2 linked regions of the Homo sapiens genome follow. The protein of the gene in region 1 purifies or fractionates together with the protein of each later gene. This does not show direct contact. Each region holds a gene or a part of one and is shown in the gene's direction. Other genes may lie near its edges.

Region 1 (3,656 bases):
AGGTTATTTGATGGTTTGGATAGTAATGACTTGACTGTGCCATGGTAGCATGAAAGCAGACACAAACAATACAGAAATGAATGTGACTATTTCCAGGACATCTTTATTACAAAAACAGACCAGAAGCCTGATGTGCCCCACTGTCCACAGTTTGCTAACCCTGGTCTAGATGGAGCTTTTGAAAATCAGAATGTGTAGGAAATGGGAAGAGAGGCAAAGAACTCATCAGGGTGAGCTGTGCTTCAGAAGGCTCAAGAGGCCTTGAAAGAGCTGAGGTTCAAAAGAGTCAGGGGGGCTGGGCGCGGTGGCTCACGCCTGTAATCCCAGCACTTCGGGAGGCCGAGGTGGGCAGATCACCTGAGGTGAGGAGCTCGAGACCAGCCTGGCCAACATGGTGAAACTCCGTGTCTACTAAAAATACAAAATTAGCCAGGCACGACGGCAGGTGCCTGTAATCCCGGTTACTGTGGAGGCTGAGACAGGAGAATCGCTTGAACCCGGGAGGCGGAGGTTGAAATGAGCTGAGATTGCCACCATTGCACTCCAGCCTGGGGAACAAGAGCAAAACTCCATCTCAAAAAAAAAAAAAACTCACAGGGCGAGGGGTGCGTGATAGAACAGAGGGCCTTCAAGGGCTGTTAAGAGACAGAAGGTAGAGAATGTTGGGGTCCCCAGGGAGGTCATAGTGCTGGTGTGGGGAGGCTTTGGAGAATCAGAATGTGACCCCCATGGAAAAGTGATAGGGCCACCACGGGCAGCTGCCCAGGTCGCAGGTTGTATGCTGCATATTTCAGTGGGTGCTCTCGTTTTCCATGTGAATGGCGCCCTCTAGAGTTGCACAGTGCACAACCTATACAGCCATTGGTGGCAACTCTCATGGTGGGGCCCAGCCCACTGAGGCCCTTTCCTCCTGGGCCACCAGGTTTCCCTGCAGTATGAGAAAAGTGGAAGCTTCTACCACACGTGTGGCGGTAGCCTCATCGCCCCCGATTGGGTTGTGACTGCCGGCCACTGCATCTCGTGAGTTCTCTACCCTGTCCCTGCCTGTGGCCCTGGGCAGCGGGGGAGAGTGGGTGATGATGGGGAAGGAGGGAGGTGAGCCAGTCAGGCCCCGACTGACCTCACCTCTGCCTGCAGGAGGGATCTGACCTACCAGGTGGTGTTGGGTGAGTACAACCTTGCTGTGAAGGAGGGCCCCGAGCAGGTGATCCCCATCAACTCTGAGGAGCTGTTTGTGCATCCACTCTGGAACCGCTCGTGTGTGGCCTGTGGGTGAGTGAATGCTCCGGTCTGGAACCCAGGGGCTCCTCTACTTGTCCCTCCATGACCCACAGCCAAGTCTGAGTAGGCTCCAACTCTGAGTAGGGACGTAGGGACATAGGGACATAGGGACAGGGGAGCTGAGTCCAGCAGCCTGTGCCCAGGTCCCACACACTGAGGATTGAAGCCAGCAGAGCCTTTAAGGACCATCACCACCAAACCTGTCTCCCTACAGAGGGGATGGCAGTGTTCAGGGAGGGGCAGGAACTCTGCCAAGGCCACTTGGCTAGTGGCTTCAGAGCTCAGGGTTCCTCTGGCATCCTTCCCCCATATCCGAGGGTTTCTCCATTCAATAGATGGCTCACCCAGTGCATCCTGGGCTCCCAGCACTATGGGCAAAAGGAGGAGCACTGGGCTGAGAGTCAGGCTCTGGCATTAACTCTGTGTATGGCCTGAGCAAGTCACTGGCCTTCTCTGGGCCTTAGTTTTGCCATTTGTCAAAAGGTGACCATGAAGTTGGGCTTCCTGGGTGGTGTGAAGGCCAAGGAGACAATCTTATGCCTTTCAAGTGTATGAAAAAATCTTAACAAATATTAGCCAGGCGTGGTGGCATGAGCCTGTAATCCCAGCTACTGGAAAGGCTGAGGCAGGAGAATCACTTGAACTCGGGAGGCGGAGGCTGCAGTGAGCCAAGATCATGCCACTGCACTCCAGCCTGGGCAACAGAGCGAGACTCTGACTCAAAAATAAATAAATGAATAAATAAAATTCCTCAGCCTTAAGAACGATTTGGGCCAGGTATAGTGGCTCATGCCTGTAATTCCAGCACTTCAGGAGGTGAAAGCAGGAGGATCCCTTGGCCCAGGAGGCTGCAGTGAGCTATGATTGTGACACTGCACTCCAGCCTGGGCAACAGACCGAGACTCTGTCTCAATAATAATAATAATAATAATAATAATGATGATGAAAGAGTGGATTTGGAGGGTAAAGAAGTTGGGGCATCTCAGAGGTGGAATAGCCTGGAGCAACGGCTAGAAGGTAGGACTTGGGCCGGCTGGAGGACCAGGCCCCGTGACTGTTCCCTCCTCCCCAGCAATGACATCGCCCTCATCAAGCTCTCACGCAGCGCCCAGCTGGGAGATGCCGTCCAGCTCGCCTCACTCCCTCCCGCTGGTGACATCCTTCCCAACAAGACACCCTGCTACATCACCGGCTGGGGCCGTCTCTATAGTACGTGCTGACTTCTCTAGCTGGCCACAGAGACAGTGGCAGAAAGACAGGGCCTGGGGGCTGCAGGTTGAAGGTAACACCAAGACCGGACCTTGTACTTTTCTCCCATTTCTCTCCAGCTGCAGCCTTCTTCCATCAACCTCCAAAACACGAATGTGGTCAATTGCACATGTTTTGGTATCTTCTGTGTGCCACGTGCTAGGGATGTAATGGTGCACAAAGCATGCAGGACCATTTAGCGGGTGGGAGGAGAGTCCTCATCAGGGCAGAAGAACTGTGGGCCTTGAATGCCCCCTTCCTCTGGGGCACCTAGCGGTGTGCCCCCAGACCCCTGACTCGGTGCTTTTTATCCTTGCAGCCAATGGGCCACTCCCAGACAAGCTGCAGCAGGCCCGGCTGCCCGTGGTGGACTATAAGCACTGCTCCAGGTGGAACTGGTGGGGTTCCACCGTGAAGAAAACCATGGTGTGTGCTGGAGGGTACATCCGCTCCGGCTGCAACGTGAGTCAGCTCTTACCTGCCCGAGGTGGTGCTGGGTGTGCAGGACCTTGGAATGGGGCCAACTGCCTGGAAGGTGGAGGAAGGATCTTGCCTGCTTGCCCCATTCAGCCTCCAGGCCAGGCAGGACTTGGAGGAAATCAGCGCAGTCCAGACACAGAGCCCAGGCCTGGGAGTCAGGACCCCCGGGTTGCAGTCTCAGCTCACACACTGACATGACTTGGGACAAGTCACTGTGTCTCCCTGGTCCTCAGGCTTCCGCATCAGCACAGCAGGAGATACTGGTCCCATGACCTCTAACGCAGGTCAATTCTGTGGTTCTAAAGTTATAATTAACCATTAAGAATACCATCATTGTTCTGGGCACAGTCCCTCCTGCCTATAATCCAAGTGCTTTGGGAGGCTGAGGTGGGAGGATTGCTTGAGGCTAGGAGTTTGAGACCAGCCTAGGTAATATAGTGAGATGCCCATCTACAGAAAAACTTTTTTTACTTAGTCAGGCATGGTGGCACTCGCCTGTAGTCCCAACTACTTGATAGGCTGAGGTGGGAGGATTGTTTGAGCCTGGGAGTTCAAGCTCACAGTGGCTATGATTTTTGCCACTGCACCCAAGCCTGGCGACACAGCAAGACGTTGTCTCTTTTTTTTTTTTTTTTGAGACAGGATCT
Region 2 (3,656 bases), on another chromosome or scaffold:
TCCTGAGGAGCATAACCTCTTATCTGAACTCTCCAGGATAGCTATTGATTTCATACACCCACATACTCTCCCTTTCCCCTTTTGCCCACTTTTTCTCTTTTCTTCTTCAATTGCCCTTTCCTTTTTAAACTTTTTTTCTTACACCTAATTGTCAGTTTAAGGATCTCTATTTGGCCTTGCAGTTAACAGTCCAGCATTTCTTTTCCAAGTGTGACCCCACTTTCTGCCCCCTGATTAAAAAAAAAAAAAAAAAAAAAGTATAGTCAAAGACCATGGTAATCAACAAGACAATTTGTTTGTGCTTCTGAGGAAATTTCACAATTTTCTGAACTCTACAGCTATTACATATTCTGTGTCTTCTCTCTGTTGAGGTCTGGATTTAATGCTTTCTTTGTATTGCTGATCCTTAAGCATGATTAGAGAAAGAATTGAGTCTAACAGAGTTACTTAGCGAAACATAGGAGCATTCCTATCCTTGGTTAAGTCTGAGCACAAAGGCATTCTCCTAATTCTGCATATAATAAAATAGAGGCAGCTGTAGTCCATTCTCTTGGGGAATATAAAGGCTTCCTTTAGCAGAATGGGTTTATGAGTCAGGGAGCCTCACTGAGAGTGTTCAGTAAGGGTATGTTGAATAAATTTTCCAAATCAAAATTACTTTCATCTGAATAGTGCCAGGCCACACTGGTTTGCATGTTTTCTTTTGTTCATTTTCCAGACTTTTTGAAAAGGCCTTTAGAGAGTTATGTGAAAAAACTAAAAGTACCAGTTCATGTAATTCGAATGGAACAACGTTCTGGATTGATCAGAGCTAGATTAAAAGGAGCTGCTGTGTCTAAAGGCCAAGTGATCACCTTCCTGGATGCCCATTGTGAGTGTACAGTGGGATGGCTGGAGCCTCTCTTGGCCAGGATCAAACATGACAGGTAATTTTCTGGTGTCTGTAAGTTTGCTTTTAGTACATTTGTCCTAAACTATATGGTGAGTTGCCAAATTCTATATTTTTTAAATAAATATAAAAGTAATTTCCTCCCAAGTTTGCTTTAAAATATCCGTGAAGAGGACTCTAAAGGAAATATCCAGAAGACCACATTCTGAAGCCTGGCAGGAATGTTTGCAAACTGTTGTACTAATGAGGAGTGATTAGGAAGCATGTCATTGGAATGTATACTATATGCTGTGTTCACCAAGCTGGAGCAGAACAGATAGATGGTGAACTCAGGGAAGACAGCATAAAACCCTTCACTTGTCCTTGCACTCTAAAGCTAATGCTGGAGCAGGCAGATCCTCTCAGCTTGTAGTGCAGCAAGAAGTAGAAGAGAATGGAGAGAAGCACATTGTGTCCTGAAATGCTTAATTTTGTATGGAAAGCACCATAATCTTAGATAATACAGGAAGAACAGTGGTGTAATGAACACCTGTGGTTATAGTTTTTCATGTTACACATTTTTCAAAGAACTCCCTATTTCTGGCTTAGTTCTTGTGCATCAGGAGAGAACCTGACTTCAGTCTGCTAGACCTATGTTGGTTGAATTTCTGCTTGTCATTGTAATTTGAGGTAGAGACTGTCCATGTTTAGATTTTAGTGGAGTGAACTTTTACTAGTCAAGTGGAACACGGTGGGAGCTAAAGCCACAGCATCTATTCTGTTTGATAGCAAATGCTGGATCTATATTTTTTCCCTTTCAAAGATGAATAAATAGGAAAACTCAGCATTGGGCCAATCAATGGGAAAGTAGAGCAGCTTTAGAAAAGAGAACATTGCCCTGAAGAATCAAAAGAATAGGATATCTGTAAATTATTTTCTTTAAATAATAGATGACGTTTTAGGGAATATTTGCTCGCCTGAAGATAACACACAACCCATAGAGAGAAAGCAAGGTGAGGTGATGACAGAAGTATGGAAGGGAGTCAGCTGAAATAGCAACCACAGTGACTTCCAGTTTGGGCTGCATGGTGGATTCGATATTCTGAATAACTTTTCCAACTGAAAAAGCTGGATAAAAGACAAAACAAATTTTAAATGCATCATTGAGTTGGCACAAAAGGAAGAAATTTGCAAATCTCGAAAAGAAGTGAGAGCAAATGTGCAGTCCAAACACTAAAGCCAGCTTTCGCTGGTAGGGTTTCTGCTGAACTTTGGGGTCACTAAGCTTCTGCCTTGAGAGACAAATAAGATGGAAGGATAGGAGACAAAAACCTAGGTCCTGCCTCAGGTGAGAAGGTTAATAGCAAACACCTGTATAAAGCTGGGCTCTTGAAATCTGTATCTTAGTATAAAGCAAGAATGAAAAATTAATCCCACCACATCAGAGAAAACTTGCCTGTCTCAACCTTGGTATGCAGTGGCAGAGGGGAAACAAATCTCCCCTAAGAATTTGTAAACAATATAGAAAAAGAGGAAACGAACCAAACTCTTTTTATGAGGCTGGTATAACTGTGATATGAAAACCAGAAAAGTACTACAAGGAAAATTACAGTGCAAATCTGTTCATGAATGCTAGTACAAAAATCTCACAATACCAGCAAACTAAACCAGCAATATACACACACACACGTGCACGTATGCGTGTAAAAAACATATCATGATATCATGACTGCTTGGTTTAGCGTAATATTACAAAAACTAATTCGTTTAATACATCCCATTAATGTATTTTTAAAACTGTGATTACAAACTTATTAAACACCTCTGATCACTCCCATAGATAATGAAAAAGGGTTCACTGAAATTTAACATGAATTTATTGTTAGAAAATACTTAGCAAACTATTATACAGTGGAAGTTTACTAATCCAAGAAAGGATGGCTTAAAAAAAAAAAAAAAGCCTTTGCAAGCAGAAATCATGTTAATGGAGAAATGTTGGAAGCATTTTTTAAAAAGATGTGGAAGAAGATGTTAATGCCCTCAATCACCAGTTAGTATTATTAGAAGTCTTTCTTAGGTTTTGCAGTACTACAGTAAATAAAGAACATTTATTTATTGGAAAAAGGAAAAGCATTGTTGTCAATTGTGTATGTGTTTGTGAAGAAAACGAATCTATACATAAAATAATAGAAACAATAAGAATTTAGCAATGTTGCCAAACACGAGATTACTATAGAAAAGTTCAGGCTAGAGCAGTGGCTCACGCCTGTAATCCCAGCTCTTTGGGAGACCGAGGTGGGCAGATCACTTGAACCCAGGAGTTCGAGACCAGTCTGGCCAACATGGCGAAACCCCAGCTCTACTAAAAATACAAAAAATTAGGCAGTCGTGGTGGTGCATGCCTATAGTCCCAACTACTTGGGAGGCTGAGTCGGGAGGATCGCTTGAACTCAGGAAGTCAAGGCTGCAATGAGCCAAGAGTGCACCATTGCCCTCTAGCCTGGGCAACAGGAGTGAGACTCCATCTCCAAACAAAAGAATGAAAAGTTTATTTCACACCAACAAGGAATACTTAGAAAATATAATGCAAAAAGAAAAGATACCATTCGTAATAGCAATGGCAGTCATAGACTACACATAGGAATATGTTTATCAAAAGATTTACTGAAATTCACGAAAAAATCTTGAGAGAGAAATGGATAGGAAAGTCAATATCATAAGAGTATCAATTCTACCCAAATTCATATATAAATTCAGTGCATTTCCAATTGAAATCTCCACAGAATTT

Evidence for each region.
Region 2: the proteins of CELA3A (region 1) and GALNT1 purify together in Homo sapiens (affinity purification with mass spectrometry; one large-scale study listed by BioGRID and IntAct). This does not show direct contact.

Annotation. Positions count from the first base shown.
Region 1 is NC_000001.11:22,004,525-22,008,180, forward strand, and holds part of CELA3A (chymotrypsin-like elastase family member 3A preproprotein), read left to right. Parts: intron 1-922; coding exon 923-1,020; intron 1,021-1,137; coding exon 1,138-1,272; intron 1,273-2,353; coding exon 2,354-2,490; intron 2,491-2,848; coding exon 2,849-2,991; intron 2,992-3,656. UniProt on the Homo sapiens protein: Efficient protease with alanine specificity but only little elastolytic activity.
Region 2 is NC_000018.10:35,682,673-35,686,328, forward strand, and holds part of GALNT1 (polypeptide N-acetylgalactosaminyltransferase 1), read left to right. Parts: intron 1-718; coding exon 719-926; intron 927-3,394; exon of another isoform or gene 3,395-3,656. UniProt on the Homo sapiens protein: Catalyzes the initial reaction in O-linked oligosaccharide biosynthesis, the transfer of an N-acetyl-D-galactosamine residue to a serine or threonine residue on the protein receptor.